4 separate regions of the Homo sapiens genome follow, and regions 2, 3 and 4 are each linked to region 1. Evidence: fine-mapped expression QTL. A gene starts in region 1. Each other region holds a variant in brackets. All regions are shown on one strand. Distances are from middle to middle.

Region 1 (4,169 bases):
TTCCATCCTTGCCAATGATACACACACACAATGTAATGCTGAGAGGGTTGGGAAGGAAGAATGGGAGAAAGGCAGAAGTTGACAGTTAAAAAAAAAAAGTTTCCAGATGGTTTTCTTAGTGTCATCTCTGCAACCTCATCAAATAAGGGTCCAAAATTTATGTTACAACATTTGTTTGATGCCTTATTTAAATTGCTTTACTGGACATTTTCCATCTGTTAAGCTCTCTGAAAGAAACAAAATTGCCTTGTCATAGCTAGACCTCATGATCCTATACACTTACAACGGGCAGACTTTGCAGGGGCCCACACCTTTCAAGGTGGTTTGGGAAAATGACACAGAAAAGTTTTACATCAGCTGAAAAGAAAAATGCATAACTCATTTTGGTAATTTCAGTTTTAATTCTTAATAGGATAAAGGAAACATGCACATTATAAATCAATGCTCTGTGTTAACAAATAATCAAGTAAGCAGAGTTGCAAGTATTGGCTAAAATGAATTTTGGATATTTTTAGCTACCAAATTTCTCGAGGCAAGGCAGACATACATCTGGACCTGAATATCTGCATTATTAGGGAATTTTTGTTTGTTTGTTTTATATTGTTTTGTTATTTTTAAAAGTAGGTGCCAAATTAGGTCACCTGCTGTCTGGGCAATGTTATTTTTTGCCATAACCACAAATTGAAGAAAATTGACTGCTCTTTTTCCTTAGTCAACATGCTGTGCTTCCAGCCCCAAACATCTTTGAGAAGTTGTTTAGATTCATGAGCAATGCCTCTGTCCCCAACAGGCTAAGACATTAGGCAGGTCCCTGCACCTCTGGAGTCCTCAGTTCCCTGCAAAGTGAGGAAGCTAGACTAAGTAATCGTTAGGCTCCCTTCCAGACCGACCAATCTGATGGTATTAGATGCAATTGCTCCTGAATTAGGGCATGAAATGAATTCAGCTTTGGTGCACCAATGTGATGACTCTGCTTCATCAAAGCCTGAGCACGCGATAGGCCTAGCACCATCTCACACAGAGACAAAGGGCAACCCTCTGCTTCCAAAGGAATGACACAACCTGTTTCTGAAGTGATTCACATCATCTTTACTTTTGAACAACCCAATGCTCAGAAAACAATCTAAGAATCTTCGCTGACTTTAGGGATGTAAGATACGGTTTCTTGACAGTATTTGGGATTGTGGAAAAAAGCAATTGAGGAAAGGGCATCTCCACAACGCAATATTGAATTTAGTGCCCAAGGTCCATCACAGGAATCCCTAACGATCCCTACAATCTCTCTCTCTCTCTTTTTTTTCTCTCTTTACCCTGAAAATAAACTGAGAAGTTAGTATTGGGATAACTATTCCCCTTGACCCAAATAAAAAGTCCTGGGCAAACACAGGTACAAATTGCCAAATGGAAAAAGTTCTTCTCCATCTTCAGCTAGAGGGAGGCTGGGGATCCCAGCTCTTTAGAAGCCGGCCCGTGGACGCCCAGAGAATCCCTTCGGAGACCAGGTCAGGGTCACTGAGCTTGCCCAGCAGGGCGCCGCCTCGGACGCCGCCCCGCCTCTCACCTTGCCAGCGCCGCGCTCGGGCCGCGAAGGTGCGTGCGGCGCTCGGTGATTGGCGGCGGCCCGGAGCTGCCCGGCTGCCATTGGCTGCCCGGCCCCCTTTGTTCCCGGGTCCGGGCCGCAGGCCCGCTGCGGCGGACTGGGCGGCGGAAGTTCGACGGCGCCGGGCGAGTGGCTGTTGAGCGGCGCCGCGGGAGTTCCGCAGGTTTCCCGTGTTCGCAGCGGAGCCGGAGGCCAGCTGAACCCGGCCGTGGGATCCCGGATAGGAGGAGGAGGGGACCCATAGGACGCGTTAACATGGACCTGGAAAACAAAGTGAAGAAGGTAGGGGGGCGCTCGTGGCGGGCGGCGGCTGCTTCACCTGCGCGGGTCGCGCGGCGCGCGGCGGCCGGAGGTGCCGAGGTGGGTGGGGCTCGCGGGCCCCCCGGTGTGAGCCCGGCTCTGGGTCTGCGGTGCCCCGGGCCCAGGGACCTGGCCCCCTGGGTAGAGGAGGTGCTCGGCGGCCCCGCCAGCTCCCCACACTCGGGAGCGACAGAATTGGAAGCGCGAGCGAGGGCGGGCGCGGGACTCTTCTCTCCAGTCTCACGGAATCCCAGTGGTTGTAGGTGTTGGAAACTTTACTTAAGATGTTTCAGCTCTGCCTGTGCCTCCTCAAAAGGAAAGGACGAGCTTAGGGCGAGTGCGGGCGAGACCGTGACACTTCCTGGCTCAGGAAGTTGAATTTCATTAAGCCTTTGTGGTTTGGGGCTCTGCTGTGCTTTGACAGCTCTGATCTCCTCCCTTCCGGCTGGGCTGTCTGGGGCGCTCTAAAATGAGTGTTGATTTAATGCACTGCCTTCGCACCCGTGCTGGTGATAACTTCTAATGTGATTTTTTTTTCGGTCATTCATTACTTGTCTACCGACCGAGGCAGTGCCTCCCTCTTAGGGAATTATCTGTCAAAGAGCGCATTCTCCTTGTTTGGCAGGTAGTCCCAAAGGGCGGTTGTCACCAGCGTCTCAGCGCAGGGAGACATTTTCAGCTTGGCTGCTGCCTCGCAGGCACTGGAACCGACGGCCCTACCTGAGCCACTCCCGGGTTATGCGGAGCCTGGTGTCGCCTGGGAGAAAAGGGTGGGGACCAGACTATGACTCAGAAGGAATGCTGATGTCACATTCGAGTGAATTGCCCTGTGCGAAAGTTCTCCTCGTTCCAGGGGATTTGCTCATGTTTTACTTTGTGGTAAATTTAAGCTAGCTGTCCCTTATCAAATAGAGAAGTTTTGCAGAGAGAGGAAGGGAAAAATACAGAAAACAGTTTTTGTTTTTCTCATACTCATGGTTCCTAATATTTTATCTTCTAAACACAAAGTTTTTGACTTGAGCATTAATTCTATTTTATGCCCAGAACTGGATTTTTGAAAATGGATACAAAATATTGTGTTAGGACTGCAGAGTTTTCGGTTAGGAAGCTATTGACCAATAAAAACTCGAAATGAGAAAACAGTTTTTTTCATTCCTTGCGACTAAAATTCTCAGGCACTCAAAAAGGTATCCAAGAACAGAAAAACATAAATTGTTAATGGTAGCGTGATTGCATTCTATTCTCTTCCCATTTGGTTTCTTTCTTTTTTTCTTTTAAATAACTGTAATATTTTTGGTTAATCTTGCTTGTCATGGGGGAAAAGCGGGGAAAGCATTTTGCCCGCTTAGCTTTCTGTTGATGAATACTACTCTCATTTAGTTTTCAAGTAGGTAAGAGCTACTTAATTTAGTACTTGTCTAAAACTTGGGGGGTCTTGTCCTTGCTTTTAAGTATTTATTTGAAGACAACTTTGCAAAAGTAAACATATTTTGGGCTGCCGAGGATGAACAGGTGAAGCACAGGATTTTTAGGGTAATGACACTATTCTGTATGATACTATAAAATGGCTGATACATGTAATTATACATTAATCAAAATCCATAGAATGTAGAACACCAAGAGTAAACCCTAATGTAAACTATGTATGTTGGGGATAATGATGTGTCAATGTGTTTCATCACTTGTAACAAATGTACTGCACTGATACGGGTTGTTGGTAGTCCGGGAGGCTGCTGGAGACAGGAAGGCATGGGGGAGGTACATGGGAACTTCGAATTTTCTGCTCAATTTTGCTGTGAAGCTAAAAAATGCTTTAAAAATAAAGTCTGTTTAATAGGGGGAGAAAAATCAAAGACATTTTTGAAACTTTTTGAGACAAGGAGTAATTCTGAGGGAAGAAGTTCAAACTTAAAAATTGTATATGCTTGCAAAGGAAAAATCCAGACGTTGTTTATAAACAATTTCCTTAGAGTTTGAAAATGTGGATTATGATAAATAATGCCCTTGACATATGGTGTAATTTTCCTCGTTTATCCCCCACTTTACTTTTAAAAGTTATATTTTCAACCAAGAATCTTAACTTTCTCTAATCCTCCTCTTCTCCGCCTCTACCACCCCAGAAAGAATTCCATAAATTAAAGGTTTTAGAGAGAATCCCATGATATAACAAATCCCTGTTTCACTACGTTGTCTTCACTGATGATTCTTAGAATCCTCAACTGGTAAATTGGAAGCTATTAAAAAACCGCAGAGATGTCCCGTATGACTC
Region 2 (4,169 bases), 140 kb after region 1:
TACCCAACAACAATGTACACATTCTTCTCAATTGTATCTGGGATGTTTTTCAGGATTCACTACATATTAGGCTACACATTAAGTCTCAATAGACTTAAAAAAATAGATATCTGATTAAATGTCTTCTCTCATCTCTAGAGAATGAAGTTAGAAATCAATAACAGAAATAAAACTGGAAAATTCCACAGAATTGTGGAAATTAAACAACACCCTCTTAACCAAGATATTGAAGTCTCTATTATTATACTACTATATTTCTCCTTTCAATTTTGTCAGTTTTTATTTTATATATTTTCATGATCTGTGATTAGGTGAGTAAATGTTTATAATTGATCTATCTTCTTGCTATACTAAAACTTTCATTAATATATAATGTTCTTTTGTCCCTTGTAAACTTTTTAAACTTAAAGACTATTTTGTCTGATGTTAGTATAGCCAGACTTTCTCTATGTTGGTTACTATCTGCATGAAATATCTTTTTCCATCCTTTCACTTCCAATCTATTTGTATCTTTGGATCTAAAGTGAGTCTTTTGTAGACAGCATATATTTGAATCACGTATTTTATTCATTCTGCCAATCTCTGTCTTTTGATTTGAGAGCTTATGCCACTTACATTTAAAGCAATTACTGTTAAGTAAGCACATACTTCTGTCATTTTGCTATTTGTTTTCTGTAGGCCTTATAGCATTTTCATCCTTCACATCCTATATCATTATCTTCTTTTGTGTTTATTTTTTTGTAGTGAAACATTTAAATTCCTTTCACATTTCTTCTGTTTGTTTTCTATAGCTACATTTTGTGGTTATCATGGGGATTACACTTAAGTTCCTAAAGTTGTAACATTCTAATTTGAATTTGTTCCAAAGTAACTTCAATAATACACAAAATCTCTGTTCCTTTAACAACTTCATTCTCACCCCTTTCAATTGTTGATGTCACACAATTATGTCTTTATACATGATGTCCAAAATACATTAATAATTATTTAAATGGTATTAGTCTCTTAAATTATGTTAAAAAATGTGGATTTATAAGTCAAAATTACAATATTACCAGCTTTTAGATTATTTTTAATGTATTAGTCTTTTAAACCATGTAGAAAACAAAAGTAATAGACCATTGTGACAATAATATTAGCTTCTATAATTGTCTATGAATTTACCTTTATTGAGATATGTATTTCTTCATATGGCTTCACATTACTCTCTAGTGTCCTTTTATTTTACCCTGCAGGACACTCCCTTGAGTATTTCTTGCAGAGAATATCTAGTTGTAATGAACTCCCTTAGCTTTTCTTTATCTGGGAATGTCTTAACTTCTGCCTTACTTTTGATGGACAATTTTGCTAGATATAAGATTCTAGGTTGACCTTTTTTACTTTTACTTTTTGTTTTACTTTTTACTTTTTGTTTTACTTACTTACTCTTACTCTTTGTTTTACTTTTAGCACTCTTAATATTTTGGCCCACTGCCGTTGGCCTTCAAATTCTCTCATGACAAATTTGCTCATAATCTTATTGAGTAGCCCTTGTATATGGCAGGTTGCTTTTCTCTTGCTGCTTTTGTTACTACAAAGGCCAGGGATTCGGTCTAGGTCCCATTGCTTGCTGCAAAAGAAAGCCAATCACTGAAACAATTAGTATTGCCAAGGAAGAAGGCTTTAATCAGGTGCTGCAACCTGAAACATTAGATTCAAGGCAGCGAATTTTAGAATAAGGGCCTAGACCCAGCCTCTGAGCTTCTCAATAGCCATTCTGGTGTGTGGCACTCTTTCTTGTCTTACACCCATGTTCAGGTGTACACTGAAGTTGTACAAAATCTGACTCCTCAGTAAATGAGCAAGATGTCATAGTCCTCAGGCTGATGATTCCATTTCTTTAGACATATACAATGTGGATTTTAGAGTGAGAGTAAAAAGTCACTGTCACCATTTAATGTACAAAAGGTAAGACTTGCAACTGACTTTACTGCTCCACAGACAGTCCTTTGGCCAATCACCATTTTCC[T/C]GCCTGGCTTCCCTGCTTGCTCCCCTTAACTGCTCACTCTGAGTATGAAAACCCTTCAAAGCTCCACGAAAGAATAGCTACAGCTCAGGGGCAGCCTTCACTACATGTGGACACCTGTGCTTGCAGAATGCAAAAACAATCACTAGCTGTAACACAACAATGTAGAAACTAAAATAATATATTAATATTAGTTTTAACTGATTGAAGAGCAAAAAAGCTGAAAAGAAAAAGTTTTGCAAGTAGGTCAAATTATGATGGCTGCCATGACTTTTTAGATAAGAGTCTTTGTTATAGAATAATTATTAAAAAGACATGGATTATAAAGCTTCTGATAGAGTTGGAAAAAAAAAACCAAATTACCTATTAGAAGGAAAAGTATATGGAGGCTAATCCTGGGGCTCTATGCTAGAAAAATTAATTGTTGTATCTCCAGTAGTTATTTAGAGAGGATATTTCCTGAGAAAAGTTAAAAAATTTGGAGAATCTCAAATATGGACCTTCACAAGCATGTGACACAGCACAGAGCGTTTGATATGTGTTCTGTGGAGTTACGAATTTTTGCAGTTGTTCAGTTTGAATTCCTCTGGTTGGATCTCCAGGGACTTTAGACATGGTTGGAATAGATGGTCTTACAGCAATAAAGACCTCATCGACAAAGGCCTGTTTGTGCTTTTTTTTCAACAAATCTATTTAAGCACAAGTCCTGTCATTATACCCTTTCAAATTCTCTCTAGCCCATCCTCTCATCTCCATCACATTGTCATTGCCTTAGATCAGACCCTCATCATTTCTCCCTTGGACGATTCCCATAGCCTTCTAATAGGTTTTCTTACCTCCAGACTTGCCATCCAGTCTATACTCTACACATCACTAGAATGATATGGGTAACAGGAAAACTTGATCATTAAAATTCTTTAATGTCTCCATACTTCTTCAGCAAAATTCCAAAATCTTTAACATAAACAAATACAACATTATCCCTGACTTAGTCTGCCTACCTCACTAGTCACTTCTTGTACTCCAACCTCCCCAACCCATCTACTTTGCTTTTCAGTAACACAGAACTATTTGCCACTTCCTTGATGCCACCTAATCCCTTGACTTTATGCATTTGTCTACTTCCATTTTCCACACCCATATCTTTAAACAGGCTCTCTTCCATCTTCCCAACACCACCTGGGATCATCTCTTCCAGATACCATCCCTAACACTACACTTTCTCACTCAACTGTCCCGCTCCATCCAGGATTGGTTAGGTGTCCAATTATGTTTTCCACAACACTCCAAATATAATTCTTACCAGCCAGCATGGTTGTGATGTTTCTTCTATACTTTCTCCCCACAAGAAGAAAGTTTTGTGAGGGTAAGGATCATATTTAATACTTGTATGTTCACCAGAAACTCATCATACAGTTTGGAGATAACATTTGTTGAAGGAGAGAAGAAAAGAGGAGAGAGGAATGGAGTGAGGCAGAAAGGAAATGATGACGAGCTACTCTTCAAAATTAAGCTGGATAACAACAAGAAATTCTAGAAAGCAATTGAGGCAACCTCCACCCTAAGACCCAGGTAAACCCTACATTTAAAGTGCTGTTCTGGGGCACAGTGAAAGATTTCTGCCAGAAAATTTGCTCCCTAGGATTTACATGATGATGAGATTACATGCTGCCTTGTGGCAACAAAATCAAAAGTCTGTAAAAGAAAAAGCGTGCTATGCTTCTGAATGTTTGGAGATCCTACAATAGATTTTTCATTCAGCTATTTTGTTGCTGCTTCATGAGCACACCTGACAGTCTTGTGGGATAATAGAAATAAACTTCTCATAAACAACGGTCAAATTTTTCAGATATATATTTTCAACACAGAACTAGCAAAATGTACACAGTGCTAAGTTGTGCCATCTCTGTACTTTACTACGCAAGGCACTTCTTTGATAATGTGCAGCAGAATAATGTTATAGCAGATTTCACAATGAAATCGTCAATGAATCTTCTTTCAGTCATTTCATTCGGGATCAAATCGGACATATGCAAAGTTCTTAGAATCACTTTTGTCAAATGGGGCAAAATTGCAGAGGTCATAGCAAGTAAGGAGCCATCCTCTTTTATAACTGCTATGCCCATCCAACAACCACAGCTTTCTTACCAAGATGGTCACCAAG
Region 3 (4,169 bases), 77 kb after region 1:
ATTCAAATATAAATAGGAAATAAAACAACAACATGACATTAAAGGGGATCTCATCAGCTAGATATGAGCCTTAAGAGGCAGGAGACCAACATGCCCCTCTGCTCAGCCTCAAGCCTGTCACTACCAAGCCACACCTTGGAGCTCAGCCTAGAGGGTCTCCATCACTCACCTGAAGTTGAATCTAAACTCCCTCTGTAACAGAACGCCAGTCTGGGGAACTCTGAATTGACTACAGGTTCACAGATAGAGATTGCTTAATTGGAAGAAAAGTAAGAAGAAAAATCAATGTCTACATTCATTCTTCACATATTCCTCAATAGATCTATATATCTATTGATTGAGGGGTCATATTTCTACATCTTGTTCATTTGTAACTTGGATATTACATAGTAAAATCTGTTTGATTGCCATCCTTGCCATCTCTTGTAGGACATTTTGGCTCTAATTTTGAAAGCTGGATATTACTTTCTTTCCACTTTCTGTAAACTGAGGCTAGGAAGGAGAAGAAAGGGAATACTCCAATGAAGCCACATACTTCCTTTCTGAAACACTGTTAAAGATACTCTGGCAGGCCCCCCTGCACCCAGCTGGGAGTGTATTCACTCCTTTATCATACAGGTAGGCTTCTGCTATACCCATCTTGGTATGAAGCCCTGGAAATAAGCAAATTCTTACACAGTGGGATCATGCAGCAAGAGTCTATATACTCAAAAGTGTTTACTAAATTTTTCTCTTAACCTTCCAAGGGTACCTCACCATTCCACCTGTCTCCCCATGGAAGATGCGAGTGAGAATGCCATGACTCTGTGACCTCACAATACTAAAAGAATTTTGCTTCTGCAGGATGGGACCACAGCCAGAACTCTATGCCACACCAGAATTTACTTATTCAACACATATTTCTGAGTGTCAACTCTGTGCCAAGTATCATTTTAGTTTTACAGCAGTGAACAAAATACACAATGTGCCTGAACTATGAATATTACTATTGTTGACGTGACAACAATGAATGAATAACAAAACAGATTTATATAAGCCAGGTTGTATAAGTGTTATAGACAAAAATGAAATAAGTGTTTAGCCAGGGTTCTCTAGAGGGACAGAACTAATAGGATAGATGTATATATGAGGGGGAGTTTATTAAAGATTATTGACTCACACAATCACAAGGCCCCACAATAGGCCGTCTGCAGGCTGAGGAACAAGGAAGCCAGTCCGAGTCCCAAAACCTCAAAAGTAAGGAAGTGGACAGTTCAGCCTTCAGTCTGTGGCTGAAGGCCCGAGAGACTGTGGCAAACCACTGGTGTCGGTTCAAGAGGCCAAGAGCTGGAAAACTTGGAGTCTGATGTTTGAGGGCAGGAAGCATCCAGCACAGGAGGAGGATGAAGGCTAGAAGACTCAGCAAGTCTGCTCCTTCCAAGTTCTTCTGCCTGCTTTATTCTAACCATGCTGGCAGCTGATTAGATGGTGCCCACTCAGATTAAAGGTGGGTCTGCCTCTCCCAATCCACTGACTCAAATGTTAGTCTCTGGTAACACCCTCACAGACACACCCAGGAACAATACTTTGCTTCCTTCAGTCTAATTAAGCTGACACTCAATATTAACCATCACAGTAAGCATATCAGAGACTATAGGGTCTGCTGTTTGGGACAGGGTGTTCTGAAAGGACCTCTGGTAAGGTGACTTTTGAGCATAGACCTGAAGAAAATGGAGGAATGAGCCCTGTACATTGTCAGGGAAGAACTGCTCTGGCAGAGGAAATACAGATGGAAAGGGCCTGCACTGGAAAAGTGATCGGCATGTTAGAGGCACAGTGAGGAGGCCAACACAACCGGTGAGGAGTGAATCAGGAGAATAATAGGGGATGAAGTCACAGTATTGGGACCCAGGTCATAGAGAGCCCTGGAAGGCATTTTAAGGACTTGGACTTTGAGGAAAATGAGAAACCATTGGCCAGTTT[G/T]GGGTACATGGATGATATTTAACCAGAAGATTCTTTTTCCTCTCTATCAAGTCATCACTTTCCACATTTTATGGAAAGAAGTTTTATCTTTTCTTGTTAAGCTATTGGTGAATTTTTAACTTTGGGGTTTTGTTTCGGATAGGTATTGGGAGAAGGAGAGGCTGTCAACCCATGCCACTATGCTATCTCTAATTCTGCCATCCAGACCGAGTAAGTTTTATTTCCACTGTATTCTGCCGTCCATGGCTTGCAGGAAGGGGTTCACCCCTACTCACCCTACAGGCCACTTCCATGAAGAGCTGTGCCCAGAGGCTCCCTGGGCCCAGCACAACAAGCACATTCACGTATCCCCAGCCTCAAATGAGCCTCATTTACAGTCCAGCAGTGTGTGCCTGCACGGTAGTTCTTTATGTTTCCTTTTCAATAAATATATGACTCATACCAGTATTGTCCTTTGTTTAGCTTTCATCTTTCTCAGAGTTTGAAGTGTTTGTAAGAAATAGTTGTAGATTTATTTTTAAAGCCTTGCTACCTTAAATCAAGAATTTTTTTTTTTTTTTTTTTTTGAGACGGAGTCTTGCTCTGTCGCCCAGGCTGGAGGGCAGTGGTGCCATCTCGGCTCACTGCAAGCACCGCCTCCTGGGTTCATGCCATTCTCCTGCCTCAGCCTCTGAGGTAGCTGGGACCACAGGTGCCTGCCACCACGCCCAGCTAATTTTTTTTTTTTTTATATTTTTAGTAGAGACGGGGTTTCACCATGTTAGCCAGGCTGGTCTCAATCTGCTGACCTTGTGATCCACCCACCTCAGCCTCCCAAAGGGCTGGGATTACAGGCGTGAGCCACCGCGCCTGGCCAAATCAGGAAATTTTAAAAGCATAACATGCCACTGTATTTCTTTTTCTTATGAAAAGCAATAATGCTAAATTTACAGGCATAATGTTGTATTGGCATTAAAGATGGCTATCAATCCATTAAAATAATCAATATGTTATTTCTTGACCTCCTGGCCTCATGATCCACCTGCCTCGGCCTCCCAAAGTGCTGGGATTACAGGCGTGAGCCACCGTGCCCAGCCAAAATAATCAATATGTTATTTCTGATGCTGAATGTATACACAAAAGTTTTCAACTATCTGAAAAAGAGGATCTTCTGATAAATATTCATCATATCCTAATTTTTAAAATTAGAGTACTTCAAATTTAGATGTTATGTTAAAAAAAAAAAACTCCAAATTCTCACACGTGAAACCTGATCTTGGTTCTGATGTTTACTTTTTTTGAAGTAAGTAGAAATAATTGAGTACAGAAGAAACAATTAGCTAGATTTGTTAAAATCTGGTTAAATATTGTTTTAATTATCACAGAAGATGTAAAGAACATGTAATTTTATGGATTATTTATAGAATAGTGGGCAAAACCAATTAGGTATTAAGAAGTGAACCTTGAATTTATGCATTTTTGTAACAGAACTTCTAGCTGTACTAAATACAAACTGAATTTTTGGAGTTAAAAAACTCTTTCATTACGCTTAAGATATATTATTTATCATATTAATAAGCTTCTCACATCATACATTGTGTATTGTTATTGTGGTTATTTTTGTCAACAATTTTTATCAAATGAGTTCTAATTTTTGGTGGAGAAATTTTGGCAACTACACAAAGAATGTACCAAATATCACTTCTGCAAACTACACATATGAACTTTTCAAAATCCATAAATTACTCTTCTCTGGTTTGGCTGAAGTTAGAGAAGCATTGTTAAATAATATTTACTGAACACTTTTTCTAAAAAAAATTGTGTGTTTTCATAATGTGTTTTGATTTAAAAGAAAGTTGTTATTATTAGTGAAAACATTTTTTGTAATGAGCCAATAAAGTCCTCAAAATTAAAATGAATCATACTATGGAAGACCTACATTTGATACACTTTTTTTTCTCTGAGCAGGCAAACGTACTTAAGACCTTTGTGTAAGATCAGAAAATCATAAGACAGCATTAAAAAGTACTATACAGGAGGAGATGGAACAAGATGGCCAAATAGAAGCCTCCAGCAATCATCTCCCCGAAAGGAATTGAACAACTATCAAAACAAAATTGAACAACTATCTAAACAAAAAAGTACCTTCATAAAAAACAAAAATCAGGTGAGTGATCACAGTACCTGCTTTTAACATCATTTTTTAAAATACTTTAAGTTCTAGGGTA
Region 4 (4,169 bases), 37 kb after region 1:
AATTGACTTACAGTTCAGCATGGCTGAGGAGGCCTCAGGAAACTTACAAACATGGTGGAACGCAAAGCAAACATGTTCTTTACATTGTGGCAGCAAGGAGAAGTGCCGAGCAAAAGGGGAAAAAGTCCCTTATAAAACCATCAGCTCTCAAGAGAACTCAATCACTATCATGAGAATAGCATGAGGGTAACAGCCCTCATGATTCAATTACCTCCTACCACATCTCTCCCACAACACATGGGGATTATGGGAACTACGATTCAAGATGAAATTTGGGTGGGGTCACAGCCAAACCATATCACTGAGCCTTCCCTTTGCCATCACTATGTCCAAATAAACCACTAAGTTTAGTCAGTTTTTTGTTCAAGGAGACCTCAAATTTCTTCCTTTCTTTTCATCTCCACTGTTGAATACTCTAATCCAAGCCATAGCATATTTTACCTGGACCACAACAATAACCCTCCAAGATGTAAATTCCATTTGTGAAGTAGTGGCAGCATCCTGTTATTTAGAACCATGCCATTGCAAACTGGATGCATAATTAACATGTTAGCTTGTCTCCCTATTGCCAGTTATGTTTCACCCCTAATCCATTTACCACATGGCAGATATTGTGATATTTAAAATTACAGATCTGATCATTTTATTCCATTACCAAAAAGCCTTTGCTGCTTCCTGATTGCTCTTATGATGAAGCCCAAATTCCTTAATGTGTTCTATGAGCCCCTGCATGACTTCATGCCTACCTCTCCAGTCTTATCACCCTCCTATTGACTCATCTTCCTACAGTCATACCAACCTCCCCTGGTTATGACACCTAAGGGGACAATTTCTTTCCTAATTCAGGACCACTGAAGGTATTCCTCTTTATACCCAATACTAGAGACTTTTCTTTCCTTTTCTCCTCCCCAGATACACACCCACATACACAGTTTACACCTATGTTTCATACATCGTCCAGATCTCAACCTAAATATCATCTTCTTATGGGGTCCCTTCTTCACGAGTTTGAAGTCCAAATTACACCCTCTCAAGGGACCCTATACTTTCTTTCCTATCACAAATGAAATTTTCTCTGTGTATGTGTGTGTGTGTGATTATTTAATGTCTATCTCCCACCAGAGAGTAAGTTCTAGAAATCAGAGACTAGGCCCCTTTTTTTTTTTTTTTTTTTTAAGCACTATGTCCTAGTGTCAAGTACATTGCTTGGCACATGGGCACTCGTGTATGTTGCATGAATGAATGAATGTCTGTGTGCCAGACCAGAGTGAAGAAGAGAACATTGTCCTTGAACTATAAGAAACACCATGATGGCAGAGAGCACATGGTAGGTGGCAATAAGTGTTTGAAGAAATAAAATAAGGGAAGGAAAGAGAAAGGAAAAACAAAGGGAAGGAAATGGAGGGCAAAAGAAATTGAGAAAAAAATGAGAAAGGCTGTAAACCTAAATCTAGGATTATAATCTTTGATGGGAAAAGTTTCCCTGTCTCTCACTAAAAAAACAAACAAACAAGAAACCTTGGATAATAGCTATAAAATGTTAACATGCAATAAAGTACAAAGCCTCTTGCTTAAATAAGGAAACATATAATTTTTGTGGTTTTATTTAATTCATTTCTTTTTATTATTTATTTTATTCACTATTGGGTGACAGCATAAGGAATATCAGATGGGGTTACACTCAGACATGTCCCTTTAAGTGTGCACTTTTTAATCAGTCTTTTTTTTTAATGGTACAATTGAAGATGTCTATTATTGGGGCCATCACCACTTCTTTCAGTGAATTCATTGAAAAAATCTTGGTTGGTTTTGATAAAAATCAAATGAATAATTGCTTCTCGTTATCATATCAGAAATGCAGATGCACGTTTGGTTGACAAAACACACTGAATTTGTTAAAATACTTACTTAGAAAATTCAGTTGAAACGTTATGGTACCATCTAAATCACAAAACTTAATTCAGTAATTTCCAAAAATACATTATTAGTGACTGATAATTCTGCTGCTTTCCTCTTTTTTTCACCTTCCATTTTAGGTTCAGAATGTACCTGTGCAGTGCAGGTGTTTTACATGGGTAAATTGCATGTTACTGAGGCTTGGGTTATAAATGATCCCATCACCCAGGTAGTGACCATAGTACCTGAGAGTTAGCTTTTCAAACGTTTCTCCCTCTCACCCTCCCCACTCTAATATTCCCTAGTGTCTGTTAGTTCCATCTTTGTGTCCATGTGTACTCAATATTTAGCTCCCACTTATAAGTGAGAATATGTGGTATTTGGTTTTCCTTTCCTGTATTAATTCACTTAAGATAATGACTTCCAGCTGCATTCATTTTGCTTCAAAGGACATGA[T/A]TTCATTCTTTTTTTATGGCTGCATAGTATTCTATGGTGAATATGTTCCACATTTTCTTTATCCAGTCTACCATTGATGGGCGTCTAGGTTGATTCCACCATGTCTTTTCTATTGTGAATACTACTGTGATAAACATACGGGTGCATTGTCCTTTTGGTGGAACAATGCATTTTCCTTTGGGATTGCTGGGTTGAATGATAGTTCTAAGTTCTTTGAGAAATCTCCAAACTGCTTTCCACAGTGGCTGAACTAATTTACATTCTCACCAACAGTGTATAAGCATTCCCTTTTCTCCGCAACATCTGTTATTTTTTGACTTTTTAGTAATAGCTATTCCGACTGATGGAAGATGGCATCTCATCATCGTTTTGATTTGCATTCCTTAATGATTAGTGATATTGAGCATGTTTTCATATATTTTTTGGCCATATGTATATCTTCTTTTGAGAAATATCTGTTCATGTCCTTTGCCCATTTTTTAATGGGGTTGTCTTTTGCTTGTTGAATTGTTCCTTATAGATTCTGAATATTAGACCTTTGTCAGTTGCAGGATTTGCAAATATTTTCTTCCATTCTATAGGTTGTCTGTTTGTCCTGTTGCCAGTTTCTTTTGCTTTGTAGAAGCTCTTCAGTTTAATTGGGTCCCTCTTTCAATTTTTACAACCTAGCTTTTAAAAGCCTTATCAAGCAAAGTCGTGTTTTGTTTCCTTCTTGCTTAAATATATGGATACTTATTCTCCCTCCTAAAAAAGGACTTGCCTTTGCATACCATGATATAGAATAGGCCTAAAAGTATTTTATGAACTATAAATGTATGAACATAAATATCAATTAGGTACAATTAATCATTTTCTACTTATTTTCAAAATTATAGAAAAATATGTCGTAACTGCAAGTGTGGCCAAGAAGAGCATGATGTCCTCTTGAGCAATGAAGAGGATCGAAAAGTGGGAAAACTTTTTGAAGACACCAAGTATACCACTCTGATTGCAAAACTAAAGTCAGATGGAATTCCCATGTATAAACGCAATGTTATGATATTGACGAATCCAGTTGCTGCCAAGAAGAATGTCTCCATCAATACAGTTACCTATGAGTGGGCTCCTCCTGTCCAGAATCAAGCATTGGTAAATGATATGGAACAGAGAGTTTCTTTATTGAAGTTCCTGGAGTATTTATTTGGGGCAGTTTCTTTGATGACCTAATCAACTTCACACATCCCAGATCTGTTATTCTTCCGGGGTTCTCATTACTTTGACTTCTGATTCCTGTTCTAGTCTTTTGAATGTAAGACTAGATACTTCATAAAATTTTTCCAACTCCCTAGATATGTTTACCTTTTTGAGGGAATGGTCTAACGTTCTTAATAATTAGATGGAAATCAGATGTTTTATATCAATCTAGTAACTCTTCTAGCTTAGTCTTGAGAGGATTTATCTTAAGATGGTAAAGAAGAGAATTTTTGTCATAGTTTAGAACTGAAAAAAATATTCAACATTATCTTTGTGTTTTTTTCATTTCCTTTATTAATACTATATAAGACCAAAAAGATCACAGTTTTATATCAAGCTCCTTCCACTATTATAACAACCAAATGAAACATTTGGAAGTCTTTTAAGGTTAGTTAAATCATTAAAGTGAATTTTGCGATATCATTTTTTATGTAATAAAAATGTTCCTGGTCCTACAGACCATTCCAAACATGTCTGCCTAAAAGTTTATGTTTTCTTTCAATTGTACATTTGTTTATTTAGCTTAAGTAAACAGTAGTAACTCAGATCTTACAAACTGAAAAAATATATAATTTCATGGAGAG

Which allele goes with the higher level. Positions count from the first base shown, and alleles are read on the strand shown. Sizes are in standard deviations (SD) of each study's normalised expression. Not every link is listed here.
With allele C in place of T in region 2, the expression in left ventricle of the gene that starts at base 1,687 in region 1 is lower (small effect, 0.18 SD a copy in GTEx).
As copies of T replace G in region 3, the expression in thyroid of the gene that starts at base 1,687 in region 1 goes up (small effect, 0.16 SD a copy in GTEx).

What was found. PIP is the estimated chance that this variant, and not a neighbour inherited with it, causes the effect.
Region 2: its variant is the best candidate, but not a certain one, in a credible set for the expression of TES in left ventricle (GTEx, PIP 0.80).
Region 3: its variant is the best candidate, but not a certain one, in a credible set for the expression of TES in thyroid (GTEx, PIP 0.67).
Region 4: its variant is the best candidate, but not a certain one, in a credible set for the expression of TES in whole blood (INTERVAL, PIP 0.66).

The regions. Positions count from the first base shown.
Region 1 is chr7:116,208,853-116,213,021 of GRCh38, forward strand. TES (testin LIM domain protein) reads left to right here and starts at 1,687. Exons shown (of 7, transcript NM_015641.4): 1 at 1,687-1,882. The coding sequence starts at 1,856. RefSeq lists silencers at 1,406-1,535, 1,569-1,831, 1,586-1,785, 1,926-2,015 and an enhancer at 2,376-2,615.
Region 2 is chr7:116,345,953-116,350,121 of GRCh38, forward strand. It overlaps LOC124900233 (a long non-coding RNA gene), which reads left to right. Exons shown (of 3, transcript XR_007060487.1): 3 at 3,407-3,565. Among named protein-coding and RNA genes, the nearest start is that of TES, 140 kb to the left of the region's middle. The variant T/C (reference allele first, on the strand shown) is at 2,009.
Region 3 is chr7:116,285,943-116,290,111 of GRCh38, forward strand. It overlaps LOC102724434 (a long non-coding RNA gene), which reads right to left and starts at 785. Exons shown (of 4, transcript NR_130922.1): 1 at 757-785; 2 at 170-253. LOC105375463 (a long non-coding RNA gene) reads left to right here. Exons shown (of 7, transcript XR_001745336.2): 2 at 2,105-2,172; 3 at 3,910-4,108. The variant G/T (reference allele first, on the strand shown) is at 1,963.
Region 4 is chr7:116,245,793-116,249,961 of GRCh38, forward strand. TES (testin LIM domain protein) reads left to right here. Exons shown (of 7, transcript NM_015641.4): 3 at 3,228-3,480. All of the region lies in intron 1 of LOC124901730 (a long non-coding RNA gene), which reads right to left. Among named protein-coding and RNA genes, the nearest start is that of TES, 37 kb to the left of the region's middle. The variant T/A (reference allele first, on the strand shown) is at 2,353.